Regions from separate parts of the Homo sapiens genome. Here region 1 is linked to region 2. A link means that fine-mapping ties the variant in region 2 to the expression of a gene that starts in the linked region. Tissue or cell type: pancreas. Region 2 holds a variant in brackets; the other region holds the start of a gene. All regions are shown on one strand. Distances are between the middles of the regions.

Region 1 (7,459 bases), 200 kb before region 2:
AAAAGGAAAAAAAGTTGTCTTCTTGTTTCCAGAATTGCCTGGTGAATCCACAGAGTACTTGGCATCCTCTGTTGTTTTCACAGCCCTACATTTCTGGTGACAATATTCTGGAGTGGGAAAAAAATTAAATGATTCAAAACTCAAATAATTGTTTCTCCCTCAAGGACCTAAAATTTGAGGTGATAAAAATGCCATTTTAAAACAATAGCTTTAAAAGGTGGTTGGGTTTTAGAAGTTAGGCAAAAGCAGCAGGCAGTTAAAATAACGGGGTATTGTGCAGCAGACATCTTACAGAGGTCAGAAATCAGGATGCGTGTTTGGGATGTGGGCATCAGATATGTTGGGTTGTGGGAATCACAGTTGAGATTGGATATCAAAAGTATTGAGACATGGAAATGGAAGTTACGACTATGGGAATCAGGAACTTTGGGACACAGGAGTGAAAATGGGACACAGGGGGAGGGTATTAACGATTTTAAGGTTTAAAGGAGTTCAGTTGTGGAAATGCAGATTTATGGACAGTGGATGAGCTATGAAAACCAAGGGTGAAGCATGGAAGATGCAAACAGGCTTATAATAATAAAGTATCTTATGTTGGATTAGACCTCCCACTGAAAACTATTATAAAGATAGGACACGTGTGTGTATGACAATTCTATCACATATATTAAATATATATAAAACTATGAGTAAATATGAATTATCAGCAATCATGCATGCACACACCCACACACACACGACAGATAAGTATCTTTAACAACTAAAGGCAATAGAAAAGGCAGAACTTAAGTGGCCACAAATCTTGAAAGAAGGAAAGCACAAGGGGTAAGATTCCAATTTACCTTAGATTCCCCATCTGCTCCTCCCTGTCATCACCCCAAGGCATTTTCCAAGTGGCAGCAAGGAATAACAGCTAAATAGAAAGCAGCAGTCTCAATAGGCTAGGAGCAAAGGCTGGAGTTTCGGAACAAGAGCAACTGAGATTTGAAGGACAAAATTCTAGAAAGAAAGAAACTATAGAGATGTGAGTCCCCAAATTTGTGTCCGTTCCTAAGATATACATGCACATGAAGAGACTCTAAGAAATCCAGCAGAACAACAGCACCTAAAGAGCTCAACAAAGATTTCAGCAGCTACACAGGGCTGAAGAGACAGAGACTAGAGTTCAAGCCCCACAAGGTGGAAGGATCTTGGTAAACATTCCAGGCTTTTGTTTTTTTGAGACAGATTCTTGCTCTGTTGCCTGGCCTGGAGTGCAGTGGTGCAATCACGGCCCACTGCAGCCTATAGCTTCTGGGCCCAAGGGGTCTTCCCACCTCAGCCTCCCGAGTAGCTGGAACTACAGGCACATGCTACTACACCAAGCTAATTTTTTGTATTTCTTGTAGAGATGGGCTTTCACCATGTTGCCCAGGCTGGTCTCAAACTCCTGGATTCAAGCGATCCACCCTCTCTGGCTTTCCAACGTGCTGGGATTATAGTCATGAGCCATCATGCCCAGCCACATTCTAGGCTTTTAGTTGTAAGACCTAGTAAGGACCATGGCCTAGGAGTAAGGTCATAACTGAAGTTAACCAGAATTAAAAAGACTCAATGATCCACTAGTACTCTTGTCTGCCTACCACAAGAAAACTTAGCCCTCCTTGGAGAAACCTGTTATCATCCAGAGCCTCTACAAATTTTCTTCTACATGGTTTGAATTCAACAAGAAATCATGAGATATGTAAAAAAAAAAAAAAAAAAAAAAAAAAAAAAAAGAAAGAAAAAAAAGGGCCAAGGGCCAAGCACCAAAAACCCAGGAAGACTCAGATGATTCAGAAATTGGAGTTAACAGATAAGGGCTTTAAATAATACAGTTAAAATGTTTAAGAAAATAAAGACAAAGAATTTCATCAAAGCCTTGGAATCTATTTTTAAAATGGGAGAGGAGGAGGAACCATGAAAATTTCAACTTTCTAAATGAAAATTCTAGAACTGAAAATATTATAACTAAAACTAAGAATTCAATAGAGGGGATGTATAGCAGCTCAGACACAGCAGAACAGAGTTTCTATGGAATGGACAGCAGGCAAATAAAAAATACAGAATAGAAATAAGGAATATAGCAAAAACTTATAACATACATGTAACTGGAGTTCCAGAATGGAGAGGTAGAGAGAGAGAAGGGGACAGATGCAATATTTAAAGAACTAGTGACCAAGATTTTTCAAAACTTGATAAAAAAGATTACATTCACACTTAAAGAGCTTTATGAATCCCAAGCAGGATAAATACAACACACACACACACACACACTTAGCGACATCAAGCACAAAGTGCTGAAGACAAAAAGAAAAAATAAAAAAAGAGAAAAATGTTCAAGTACCTGAGGAGGGGGCCAAAAGACAGGAGCAACAATTAGACTGATGGCTGATTTCTCAATAGAAACAATGACAAGCAGAAGACAATGAGAAGACATTTTTAAAATGCTGAAAGATTAAAAAAAAAGCCAATGTGAAATTCTATACCCAGCAAAACTATCCTTTAAAAAATGAAGGTGAATTAAGATGATTTTATGTTAACAAAAGCTGAGAGACTTTGTTGTTAGCAGACCTGAATACAAGAAGTGCTTAAGGGAGTTTCCCTCTTAAATACTACAGCACAGTGCTCCCAAATGGAAATGCTGAACTTGAAGAAAAAACGGAGAACATCAGAAAGCAGCAACTTTGACCCAATTCTGCTCCAATAAATTCTCATTGCAGTGGAATCATTTGTTGTAAAATATAAGTTCATATTAAACAAAATGCAGACAAAGAATGAGGTAAAGCTTGAATTTTACAACTTAACAGCATGTAGACATGGGCGGTTTAATTTTAACCAAAATCAAGTTAAAAACATTGTTAAGCAACAATGGAATTTGGGCCCTGGGAGTCAGGGGTCAAGGGCAACAGCTGGCATGTGGGAGTCAAAGGTTATGGCTGTGTGTGTCTGTGGTTCCTGGCTGTTAGGAGACAAGAAAATCTGTGGAGATGCAGGTGTCGGGAGCCATGGGCGATAGTTGTATTTTGAGGGTCAGGGGTCAAGAGAGCCTTTGGAAGACTTATGAGTCAGGGTCCACGGCTGACGGGTGGGTCGTGGTAGTTGTGTCAAAGGGCAGAGGTTGGAGGTCATGACCCACCAACACACGCCGGTTGAAACTTGAGCGCAAGGGACGGTTGAGATTCCCGGAGGACACGCCCCTATCGGCCCCGCCCCGTGCACCGCCTCCGTCGCCCCGCCCCGTCCCTCCCAGCCCCGCCCCGTCCCTCCCAGCCCCGCCCCTCCAGCGCTTCGAATGCGGACGCGAAGCCTGGCTGAGGCTGCGAAGGACGAGCGGCGCAGGGACCCCGCGGGCGTCTGGGGCTTCCGCGGCGCCCGCCTCTGCTCCCTCCCCTCGGGCGCTGGGTGCCGACCGGCCGGCTGGCCGGCGCCGCCTCCTGGGAAGATGGCGCTGCACTTCCAGGTCAGTGTGCTCTGCGCCGCGGGCCCGCGCTCCGCCACGCTGGGAACCCGGCGGGACGCGTCTGGAGACCGAGGGCCGAGGACAGCGGCGGAGGCCGCAGGGCCGTGGGCCGGTGTCCCCGGAGTCCCAGCCCCTGCCTCTGCCCCTAGCCGGGGACCGGGACACTGGTCTGGGCTGCACACCCCAGGCCCGGGCCGGAGCCCGAGAAAGGGGCGGCCGAGCCTGGGTTGGAGGCGGCGGGTGGAGGGGGCGGGGGACAGGCCCAGGGCTCGTCCCGGGGAAGGTGCGGACGCCGGCAGCACGCTCGCTGACCGCGGCTTTAGTGTTGCCAGGGCAGGTGGGAGTCCCAGCTGGGCCGGCTTTGGCGCGCCTCGCGCGGCTGCCGAGCGGTGGAGCAGCCTTCCCGCCTTCCCGCCGCGTCGCCGGCGCGGCTCTATCGTCAGCCTCCCTCCACACAGTTGAGCCCCAGCCGGAGCGGGGGCTTGGGATCCACCGAAGGAGCGGCGGCAGCGGTTGGACTTTAATTGGCCAGAGGAGACAGGGGCTGCGTCTGGGGGGAGTTGCGAGGGAGGGCTACGCGGCCGCCTCTTCGGAGGAGGAAACCCGGGCCGGGCGCGGGCGCGGGCGCGGACGCGAGGATCGCAGAGGCTACGAAGATGGGACGCGTGCTTGTATATCCTCGGGCTGCTCTGACATCCCCGTTCAGTTATTCAGCAAACATTTATTATCTCCCCACTGTGTCTCAAGCATTGTGGAAAGTTCTGGGGATAAAGGATGACATCTTACTATCCTCGCCCTCATACAGTTAACAGAGAATTACAGTACAAGTGAAAAATGTATGGTAGAAATAGTCACAGTATCATAGCACAGAAAAGGGGGTAGCCAGCCAAATGTGTATGTTGAGAAGGAGTGAAGCAGAGCTGCTATGCTCTTAGCTGAGAGATGCTTTAAGATTCTTTGAGCCTCCATTCTTCCATTTATTAATTATTGAGCGCCTACTATGCTAGGCGCTGAAGATACAACAGCTCTGAACAAAACTATGGTTTCTACTCTCAGGGAACTTGCAGTCTACTGGTCCTTGAAAGAGTCGTAGTTGTTTGCCAGGTGAAGAGGAAGGGAAGGATATGGAGGTAGAAGGACGTGTGAGCCAAGGCAAAGAATTGTGGAAGAACATGGTGTACTGCAGAAAGTTGAGTCTGGTTGGGACAAAGGGATGGGATCAGGGGAGGCAGTGGGTGGCAGGAGATGACCCCAGGGAGGGAAGGGAATTTCATAATATGGTGACAGTGTATCTAAGAATCTCATTCCCCTTGTAGACTCTTTTGAACCCCCTGTGATCACACTGATTTATAACTTGGCTGATTTATTGATTCTTCTAAAGGGTCTTTTTTTTAAAACCAGTTACTGTCTGATAATCGACAGTTCTAGAATGTTATGTAGTAAGCCCGACACATTACCTTTTGACTTCATGCCATTTCTAAGGGTCCTCAGGTCAAAATAATGTATTACCACTTTAGTAAATATGCCCTCTGGGAAATTTTCACAGGAAGAATCTTACAAGGAGGATTTATGGATTGTAAATAGGTAATCAGATGTTCACAGAGCCCGAGTAAATCTTGAGAGTAAATTAAAAGGTATGGTGGAACTTTGGAATTTTTTCATACATGGAAAGGTGATGTACAGTTAAATCACCAAGCCCTGGAAGACTTCTTCATATTTAGGCACAGTGTTGGAAAAGTTAGCTGCTGATGTCAAAACTACCCATATTGGTTTTGCAGGAATGTACTTCACAGTACATTCCAACATAAGTACTTCACAGTACATTCCTGTAGACAGCTTAAAAGCGGAGTTGGACAAATAAAAGATCAGACAGTTTTGTTGACTAGAAAAAAACTGAAATTTCTCCGTTTGAATTCTTTTTAGCATATAGGATCATATTGTTAATCAGTTAACTCAAGGAACATTTGTTAATAGTGATAACCAGTACCTAGCATTTTGAGTTTTCATATCCTCATTATAGAGGTGAGCCCTGCCACTAACTTAAAAAGTGTGCATATATACGTTTCATTCTGAAGACACTGAGTCTTAAAACAGTTGTGACTTGCCCAACGTTACAGAGTTAGAGTAGGCCTCATAACTCATAAGTTCCGTGTTCCCCATTACCTCTGTCTTACTGTCACCTACCCAAAAGGGCAGCTAGGCAAAAATTATACCATCAAGATGATGAGTAAAGAAGCAGATTTGTGTAGGGTGAGGTTAGGGTAGTGGTCAACATCTTTTTCACATCATGACATACATAAAAAATGTTAATTGTGTGTCTCATTAACATAAACCGCTCATTGCCAAAGGCCATCAGTGTGCACTTTCCCCAATGTCTCAAGCTCTGCTCCTAATGCTTGGAGGGCAGAGGGATCAATATCTCAGGCATACCTGTGAATCATTCAAAGCAGTTGCATTCTGGTTAGGAAGCTGTGAATTACGATACCCTGTCCCAAAGGAATTAATGGGTCTGGATTCCCTGACAGGCAATCCAGATAAGGGGGCAGAGTGAGGAAAAAGAATTGAGAAGAAGTAAGAGGTAGGCACTTTAGGTAGAACAGAGGTACCTTGGTAAGAATCGAGAGAATGTTAGGAAAAATTTAAGGGACTCAGTTGATCCAACTTTTTTGCTCAGGACTGTTTAAGAAGCAGGAAATATAGCCATGCTTCTTAATCTCCAGTCAAGCTACCTGATTTGATCTAGATGTGATTGAGAACTATTATTTTTAAATGCAATTATAACATGAGAAAAGGTATGTGGGAATGACCATTCTGGCAGTGTGGACTTGAATGGGAGAAACTATGGAAGATCCGTATGGTCTTTTATATTCACCAGTAACTGGAGAGATTATTTATGATTTATTGTGGATCTTCTGTATGGCAGGCACTGGATTAGGCTTTCCCCATCTTTTCTATCTTCATTCTACAATTAGTTTGGAAGGTAGATATTGCTGTTTGCAGGTTTGTTGTTGTTGTTGTTGTCGTTTGTTTTTTGAGACAGAATCTTGCTCGCCCAGGCTGGAGTGCAGTGGTGGAATCTCGGCTAACTGCAGCCTCTGCCTCCCGGGTTCCAGTGATTCTCTTGCCTCAGCCTCCTGGGTAGCTGGGATTACAGTTGCAAGCCACCATGCCCTGCTAATTTTTGTATTTTTAGTAGAGACAGGGTTTCTCCATGTTGGCCAGGCTGACCTCGAATTCCTGACCTCAGGTGATCCGCCCACTTCGGCCTCCCAAAGTGCTAGGATTACAGGAGTGAGCCACCGCGCCCGGCCCTGTTTGCAGTTTTAACAGCAAGGCTTAGAAAGGTTAAATTATTTGCCCGAGGTCACTTAATAAGTGAGTGGCAGATTCCAAAGGTTGTGTCCACTCTGTTGGACCAGTGGTTTTCAAATCGAACCATGACATTTCTAAGACCCCACTACTCTCTACTCGCATTCCCAGAGCAGCTTGAGAAATCCCTGGCCCTGGCAGCCACAGTTAGAAAATATTGCTTGATCTACTGTCTGTGAATATCAGGGGGAGGTGTTGAGTTGAGTCTTTATAGAAGAATAATTGGGAGGACTTTATGACAAATTAGGTATGTCCCTGGAATTAGCCATACTGAGATTAGAGGGCAGAGTCCACAAGACTGCCCTTTCTTCTCAGACCAAGTGCAAGTTTGGGGGTTTCCCAAAACCACCCTCAGGTTCAGTAGTTGACTCACAGAATTCACCGAAAGTTGTCATACTCAGTTGCAGTTTGTTACAGGGACAGGATACAGATTAAAATTGGTCAAAGGAAGGTGACACAGGGCAACATCTGTGCAGGTTTCAAAACTAAGCTTCTGTTGGCCTCAGGACATGTTGTGCTCCCTGCATCAATATATGGCAATATGCACTAATTATTGCAAACTGGGTGAGCTCACCTAGACTTCATTATACAGGGTTTTTACTGGGGCTT
Region 2 (7,459 bases):
TGCATGTGTCTTTATAGCAGCATGATTTATAGTCCTTTGGGTATATACCCAGTAATGGGATGGCTGGGTCAAATGATATTTCTAGTTCTAGATCCCTGAGGAATCGCCACACTGACTTGCACAATGGTTGAACTAGTTCACAGTCCCACCAACAGTGTAAAAGTGTTCCTATTTCTCCACATCCTCTCCAGCACCTGTTGTTTCCTGACTTTTTAATGATTGCCATTCTAACTGGTGTGAGATGGTATCTCATTGTGGTTTTGATTTGCATTTCTCTGATGGCCAGTGATGATGAGCATTTTTTCATGTGTCTTTTGGCTGCATAAATGTCTTCTTTTGAGAAGTGTCTGTTCATGTCCTTCACCCACTTTTTGATGGAGTTGTTTTTTTTTTTTCTTGTAAATTTGTTTGAGTTCATTGTAGATTCTGGATATTAGCCCTTTGTCAGATGAGTAGGTTGCGAAAATTTTCTCCCATTTTGTAGGTTGCCTGTTCACTCTGATGGTAGTTTCTTTCACTGTGCAGAAGCTCTTTAGTTTAATTAGATCCCATTTGTCAATTTTTGCTTTTGTTGCCATTGCTTTTGGTGTTTTAGACATGAAGTCCTTGCCCATGCCTATGTCCTGAATGGTAATGCCTAGGTTTTCTTCTAGGGTTTTTATGGTTTTAGGTCTAACATTTAAGTCTTGAATCCATCTTGAATTAATTTTTGTTTAAGGTATAAGGAAGGGATCCAGTTTCAGCTTTCTACATATGGCTAGCCAGTTTTCCCAGCACCATTTATTAAACAGGAAATCCTTTCCCCATTGCTTGTTTTTCTCAGGTTTGTCAAAGATCAGATAGTTGTAGATATGCAGCGTTATTTCTGAGGGCTCTGTTCTGTTCCATTGATCTATATCTCTGTTTTGGTACCAGTACCATGCTGTTTTGGTTACTGTAGCCTTGTAGTGTAGTTTGAAGTCAGGTAGCGTGATGCCTCCAGCTTTGTTCTTTTGGCTTAGGATTGACTTGGCAATGCGGGCTCTTTTTTGGTTCCATATGAACTTTAAAGTAGTTTTTTCCAATTCTGTGAAGAAAGTCATTGGTAGCTTGATGGGGATGGCATTGAATCTGTAAATTACCTTGGGCAGTATGGCCATTTTCACGATATTGATTCTTCCTACCCATGAGCATGGAATGTTCTTCCATTTGTTTGTATCCTCTTTTATTTCATTGAGCAGTGGTTTGTAGTTCTCCTTGAAGAGGTCCTTCACGTCCCTTGTAAGTTGGATTCCTAGGTATTTTATTCTCTTTGAAGCAATTGTGAATGGGAGTTCACTCATGATTTGGCTCTCTGTTTGTCTGTTATTGGTGTATAAGAATGCTTGTGATTTTTGTACATTGATTTTGTATCCTGAGACTTTGCTGAAGTTGCTTATCAGCTTAAGGAGATTTTGGGCTGAGACAATGGGGTTTTCTAGATATACAATCATGTCATCTGCAAACAGGGACAATTTGACTTCCTCTTTTCCTAATTGAATACCCTTTATTTCCTTCTCCTGCCTAATTGCCCTGGCCAGAACTTCCAACACTATGTTGAATAGGAGTGGTGAGAGAGGGCATCCCTGTCTTGTGCCAGTTTTCAAAGGGAATGCTCCCAGTTTTTGCCCATTCAGTATGATATTGGCTGTGGGTTTGTCATAGATAGCTCTTATTATTTTGAGATACGTCCCATCAATACCTAATTTATTGAGAGTTTTTAGCATGAAGGTGTTGAATTTTGTCAAAGGCCTTTTTTGCATCTATTGAGATAATCATGTGGTTTTTGTCTTTGGTTCTGTTTATATGCTGGATTACATTTATTGATTTGCATATATTGAACCAGCCTTGCATCCCAGGGATGAAGCCCACTTGATCATGGTGGATAAGCTTTTTGATGTGGTGCTGGATTCGGTTTGTCAGTATTTTATTGAGGATTTTTGTATCAATGTTCATCAAGGATATTGGTCTAAAATTCTCTTTTTTGGTTGTGTCTCTGCCAGGCTTTGGTATCAGGATGATGCTGGCCTCATAAAATGAGTTAGGGAGGATTCCCTCTTTTTCTATTGATTGGAATAGTTTCAGGAGGAATGGTACCAGTTCCTCCTTGTACCTCTGGTAGAATTCGGCTGTGAATCCATCTGGTCCTGGACTCTTTTTGGTTGGTAAGCTATTGATTATTGCCACAATTTCAGAGCCTGTTATTAGTCTATTCAGAGATTCAGCTTCTTCCTGGTTTAGTCTTGGGAGGGTGTATGTGTCGAGGAATTTATCCATTTCTTCTAGATTTTCTAGTTTATTTGCGTAGAGGTGTTTAGTATTCTCTGATGGTAGTTTGTATTTCTGTGGGATCGGTGGTGATATCCCCTTTATCATTTTTTATTGTGTCTATTTGATTCTTCTCTCTTTTTTTCTTCATTAGTCTTGCTAGCGGTCTATCAATTTTGTTGATCCTTTCAAAAAACCAGCTCCTGGATTCATTGATTTTTGGAAGGGTTTTTTGTGTCTCTGTTTCCTTCAGTTCTGCTCTGATTTTAGTTATTTCTTGCCTTCTGCTAGCTTTTGAATGTGTTTGCTCTTGCTTTTCTAGTTCTTTTAATTGTGATGTTAGGGTGTCAATTTTGGATCTTTCCTGCTTTCTCTTGTGGGCATTTAGTACTATAAATTTCCCTCTACACACTGCTTTGAATGTGTCCCAGAGATTCTGGTATGTTGTGTCTTTGTTCTCATTGGTTTCAAAGAACATCTTTATTTCTGCCTTCATTTCGTTATGTACCCAGTAGTCATTCAGGAGCAGGTTGTTCAGTTTCCATGTAGTTGAGCGGTTTTGAGTGAGTTTCTTAATCCTGAGTTCTAGTTTGATTGCACTGTGGTCTGAGAGACAGTTTGTTATAATTTCTGATCTTTTACATTTGCTGAGGAGAGCTTTACTTCCAACTATGTGGTGAATTTTGGAATAGGTGTGGTGTGGTGCTGAAAAAAAATGTATATTCTGTTGATTTGGGGTGGAGAGTTCTGTAGGTGTCTATTAGGTCCGCTTGGTGCAGAGCTCAGTTCAAATCCTGGGTTTCCTTGTTAACTTTCTCTCTCATTGATCTGTCTAATGTTGACAGTGGGGTGTTAAAATCTCCCATTATTAATGTGTGGGAGTCTAAGTCTCTTTGTAGGTCACTCAGGACTTGCTTTATGAATCTGGGTGCTCCTGTATTGGGTGCATATATATTTAGGATAGCTCTTCTTTTTGAATTGATCCCTTTACCATTATGTAATGGCCTTCTTTGTCTCTTTTGATCTTTGTTGGTTTAACGTCTGTTTTATCAGAGACTAGGATTGCAACCCCTGCCTTTTTTTGTTTTCCATTTGCTTGGTAGATCTTCCTCCATCCTTTTATTTTGAGCCTATGTGTGTCTCTGCATGTGAGATGGGTTTCCTGAATACAGCACACTGATGGGTCTTGACTCTTTATCCA[A/G]TTTGCCAGTCTGTGTCTTTTAATTGGAGCATTTAGTCCATTTACATTTAAAGTTAATATTGTTATGTGTGAATTTGATCCTGTCATTATGATGTTAGCTGGTGATTTTGCTCGTTAGTTGATGGAGTTTCTTCCTAGCCTTGATGGTCTTTACAATTTGGCATAATTTTGCGGCGGCTGGTACCGGTTGTTCCTTTCCATGTTTAGTGCTTCCTTCAGGAGCTCTTGTAGGGCAGGCCTAGTGGTGACAAAATCTCTCAGCATTTGCTTGTCTGTAAAGTATTTTATTTCTCCTTCACTTATGAAGCTTAGTTTGGCTGGATATGAAATTCTGGGTTGAAAATTTGTTTCTTTAATATGGTTGAATATTGGCCCCCACTCTCTTCTGGCTTGTAGAGTTTCTGCCGAGAGATCCGCTGTTAGTCTGATGGGCTTCCCTTTGAGGGTAACCCAACCTTTCTCTCTGGCTGCCCTTAAAATTTTTTCCTTCATTTCAACTTTGGTGAATCTGACAATTATGTGTCTTGGAGTTGCTCTTCTCGAGGGGTATCTTTGTAGCGTTCTCTGTATTTCCTGAATCTGAATGTTGGCCTGCCTTTCTAGATTGGGGAAGTTCTCCTGGATAATATCCTGCAGAGTGTTTTCCAACTTGTTTCCATTCTCCCCGTCACTTTCAGGTACACCAATCAGACGTAGATTTGGTCTTTTCACATAGTCCCATATTTCTTGGAGGCTTTGTTCGTTTCTTTTTATTCTTTTTTCTCTAAACTTCCCTTCTCACTTCATTTCATTCATTTCATCTTCCATCACTGATACCCTTTCTTCCAGTTGATCGCATCGGCTCCTGAGGCTTCTGCATTCTTCACGTAGTTCTCGAGCCTTGGCTTTCAGCTCCATCAGCTCCTTTAAGCACTTCTCTGTATTGGTTATTCTAGTTATACATTCATCTAAATTTTTTTCAAAGTTTTTAACTTCTTTGCCTTTGGTTTGAATTTCCTCTTATAGCTCGGAGTAGTTTGATCGTCTGAAGCCTTCTTCTCTCAACTCGTCAAACTCATTCTCTGTCCAGCTTTGTTCTGTTGCTGGTGAGGAACTGCTTTCCTTTGGAGGAGGAGAGGCGCTCTGCTTTTTAGAGTTTCCAGTTTTTCTGCTCTGTTTTTTCCCCATCTTTGTGGTTTTATCTACTTTTGGTCTTTGATGATGGTAATGTACAGATGGGTTTTTGGTGTGGATGTCCTTTCTGTTTGTTAGCTTTCCTTCTAACAGACAGGACCCTCAGCTGCAGGTCTGTTGGAGTTTGCAAGAGGTCCACTCTGGACCCTGCTTGCCTGGGTATCAGCAGCAGTGGCTGCAGAACAGCAGATTTTCGTGAACCGCGAATGCTGCTGTCTGATCGTTCCTCTGGAATTTTTGTCTCAGAGGAGTACCCAGCCGTGTGAGGTGTCAGTCTGCCCCTACTAGGGGGTGCCTCCCAGTTAGGCTGCTCGGGGGTCAGGGGTCAGGGACCGACTTGAGGAGGCAGTCTGCCCGTTCTCAGATCTCAAACTGCATGCTGGGAGAACCACTGCTCTCTTCAAAGCTCTCAGACAGGGACATTTAAGTCTGCAGAGGTTACTGCTGTCTTTTTGTTTGTCTGTGCCCTGCCCCCAGAGGTGGAGCCTACAGAGGCAGGCAGGCTTCCTTGAGCTGTGGTGGGCTCCACCCAGTTCGAGCTTCCCGGCTGCTTTGTTTACCTAGCGAGCCTGGGCAATGGCGGGCGCCCCTCCCCCAGCCTCGCTGCTGCCTTGCAGTTTGATCTCAGACTGCTGTGCTAGCAGTCAGCGAGACTCCGTGGGCGTAGGACCCTCCAAGCCAGGTGCGGGATATAATCTCCTGGTGCACTGTTTGTTAAGCCCATCGGAAAAGCGCAGTATTAGTGTGGGAGTGACCCGATTTTCCAGGTGCTGTTTGTCACCCCTTTCTTTGACTAGGAAAGGGAACTCCCTGACCCCTTGCACTTCTGGAGTGAGGCAATGCCTCGCCCTGCTTCGGCTCACACACGGTGCGCTGCACCCACTGTCCTGCGCCCACTGTCTGGCACTCCTTAGTGAGATGAACCCAGTACCTCAGATGGAAATGCAGAAATCACCCGTCTTCTGCGTCACTCACGCTGGGAGCTGTAGATGGGAGCTGTTCCTATTCGGCCATCTTGGCTGCCAGTCCTAGAATGTATTTTTAAGCTTTTGAATTTGTTGCTAATTTGATGGGTGAAAAAATTGACTTTTATTGTAATTTTAATTTGCATTTCTCTTTTATATGAATGAAATTACATATGTTTTTACATAATTAACAAGCATTTTTATATCTCCTTTGAGTTGTTTATTCAAATCTTTGCCCATTTGTTTGTTTTTTTGTTTGTTTTCAGACAGGGTTTCACTCTGTTGCCCAGGCTGTAGTACAGTGGCATGATCTTGGCTCACTGCAACCTTCTCCTTCCAGGCTCAAGTGATCCTCCCACTTTAGCCTTCCAAGGAGCTGGGACTACAGACACATGCCACTGTGCCCAGGCACATGCCACCATGCCCAGCTAATTTTTGTATTTTTTTTTCATAGACATGGGGTTTCTCCATGTTGCGTAGGCTGGTGTCGAACTCTTGAGCTCACATGATCTGCCTGCTTCTGCCTCCCAAAGTACTGGGATTACAGACATGAGTGACCATGCCCAGCCTCCCTGCCCATTTTTCTATAGGATTTCTATAGGTTGATTTTCCTCAATTTAAAAAAAAAAAATCCTTGATTTATTAAGAATGTAACTATTTATCTGCGATATATGCTGTGAATGTTTTTCCCAATTTTGTCAGTTACCTTTGATTTTGTTAATGAGTTTTCTTTGGCTATGCACATTTTCCAACGTATCATCTTATTTTGTTTTTAATTGCATCTAGGATTTTAGTCATAGTTAGGAACCCTTTCCTTACAGATGGGTTTTAGAGGAATTCACTGATTATTTCTTTTGGTGCATATATAGATTTACTTTTTATATTTATATCTCTGATCCATTTGGAGTTTATTCTTGGGTGTAGTGGAAGGAATGAATCTACTTTTACCTTTTTTCAAATGGCTATCCGGTATTCCCTACACCAACCATCCTCAACCTTTTTGGCACTAGGGACCAGGTTCATGGAAGACAGATTTTCCACAGAATGGGGGGGTGGGGTGAAGGGGACGGTTTTGGCATGAAACTGTTCCACCTCAGACCATCAGGCATCACTTAGATTCTCATAAGGAGCACACAACCTAGATCCCTCCCATGCACAGTTTACAGTAGGTTTCCTGCTCCTGTGATAATCTAATGCTGCTGCTGACCTGAGAGGAGACGGAGCTGTCAGGTGATAATGCTGGCTTGCCCTCCGCTCATCTCCTGCTTTGTGACTCCCAGTTCCTAACAGGCTATGGACTGGTACCAGTCCATGGCCCAGGGCTTTGGGATCCCTCCCCGCCCTACACTGTGTATTAACCAGAGCATCTTTGACCCAATGATTTGAGATACCAGTTTTATCATATACTAGATGTTTATATGTAATTGGATCTAATTCTAGAAATTATATTTTATTCCATTGATTTGATAGCTTATTCTTGTGCCAGTACCATACTGTTTAATGAAAGAGGTTTGTAGCATGTTTTTATACCTTGGAGTAGTTCTACCCTGCCTCCTTTCCCACCTTTCACAGATCTTTATATTCATTAATTTCCTAGCTATTCTTGTGTTTATTTTTATTATTTTTTGAGACGGAGTCTCACTCTGTCGCCCAGATTGAAGTGCAGTGGTATGGTCTCGGTGCACTGCAGCCTCTGCCTCCCGGGTTCAAGTGATTTTCCTGCCCCAGCCTCCTAAGTAGCTGAGATTACAGACGCCCACCACCATGCCCAGCTAATTTTTTGTATTTTTAGTAGAGACAGGATTTCACCATGTTGATCAGTCTGGTCTCAGAC

Which allele goes with the higher level. Alleles are on the strand shown, and positions count from the first base shown. SD is a standard deviation of normalised expression in the study named.
For the expression in pancreas of the gene that starts at base 3,448 in region 1, allele A in region 2 goes with a lower level than allele G (large effect, 1.0 SD a copy in GTEx).

What was found. PIP is the estimated chance that this variant, and not a neighbour inherited with it, causes the effect.
Region 1: RANBP17 starts here. The variant in region 2 is fine-mapped to the expression of RANBP17 in pancreas (GTEx, PIP above 0.99).

The regions. Positions count from the first base shown.
Region 1 is chr5:170,858,571-170,866,029 of GRCh38, forward strand. It overlaps RANBP17 (RAN binding protein 17), which reads left to right and starts at 3,448. Exons shown (of 28, transcript NM_022897.5): 1 at 3,448-3,481. The coding sequence starts at 3,464.
Region 2 is chr5:171,058,627-171,066,085 of GRCh38, forward strand. The region is part of intron 14 of RANBP17 (RAN binding protein 17); the gene reads left to right. Among named protein-coding and RNA genes, the nearest start is that of RANBP17, 200 kb to the left of the region's middle. The variant A/G (reference allele first, on the strand shown) is at 3,488.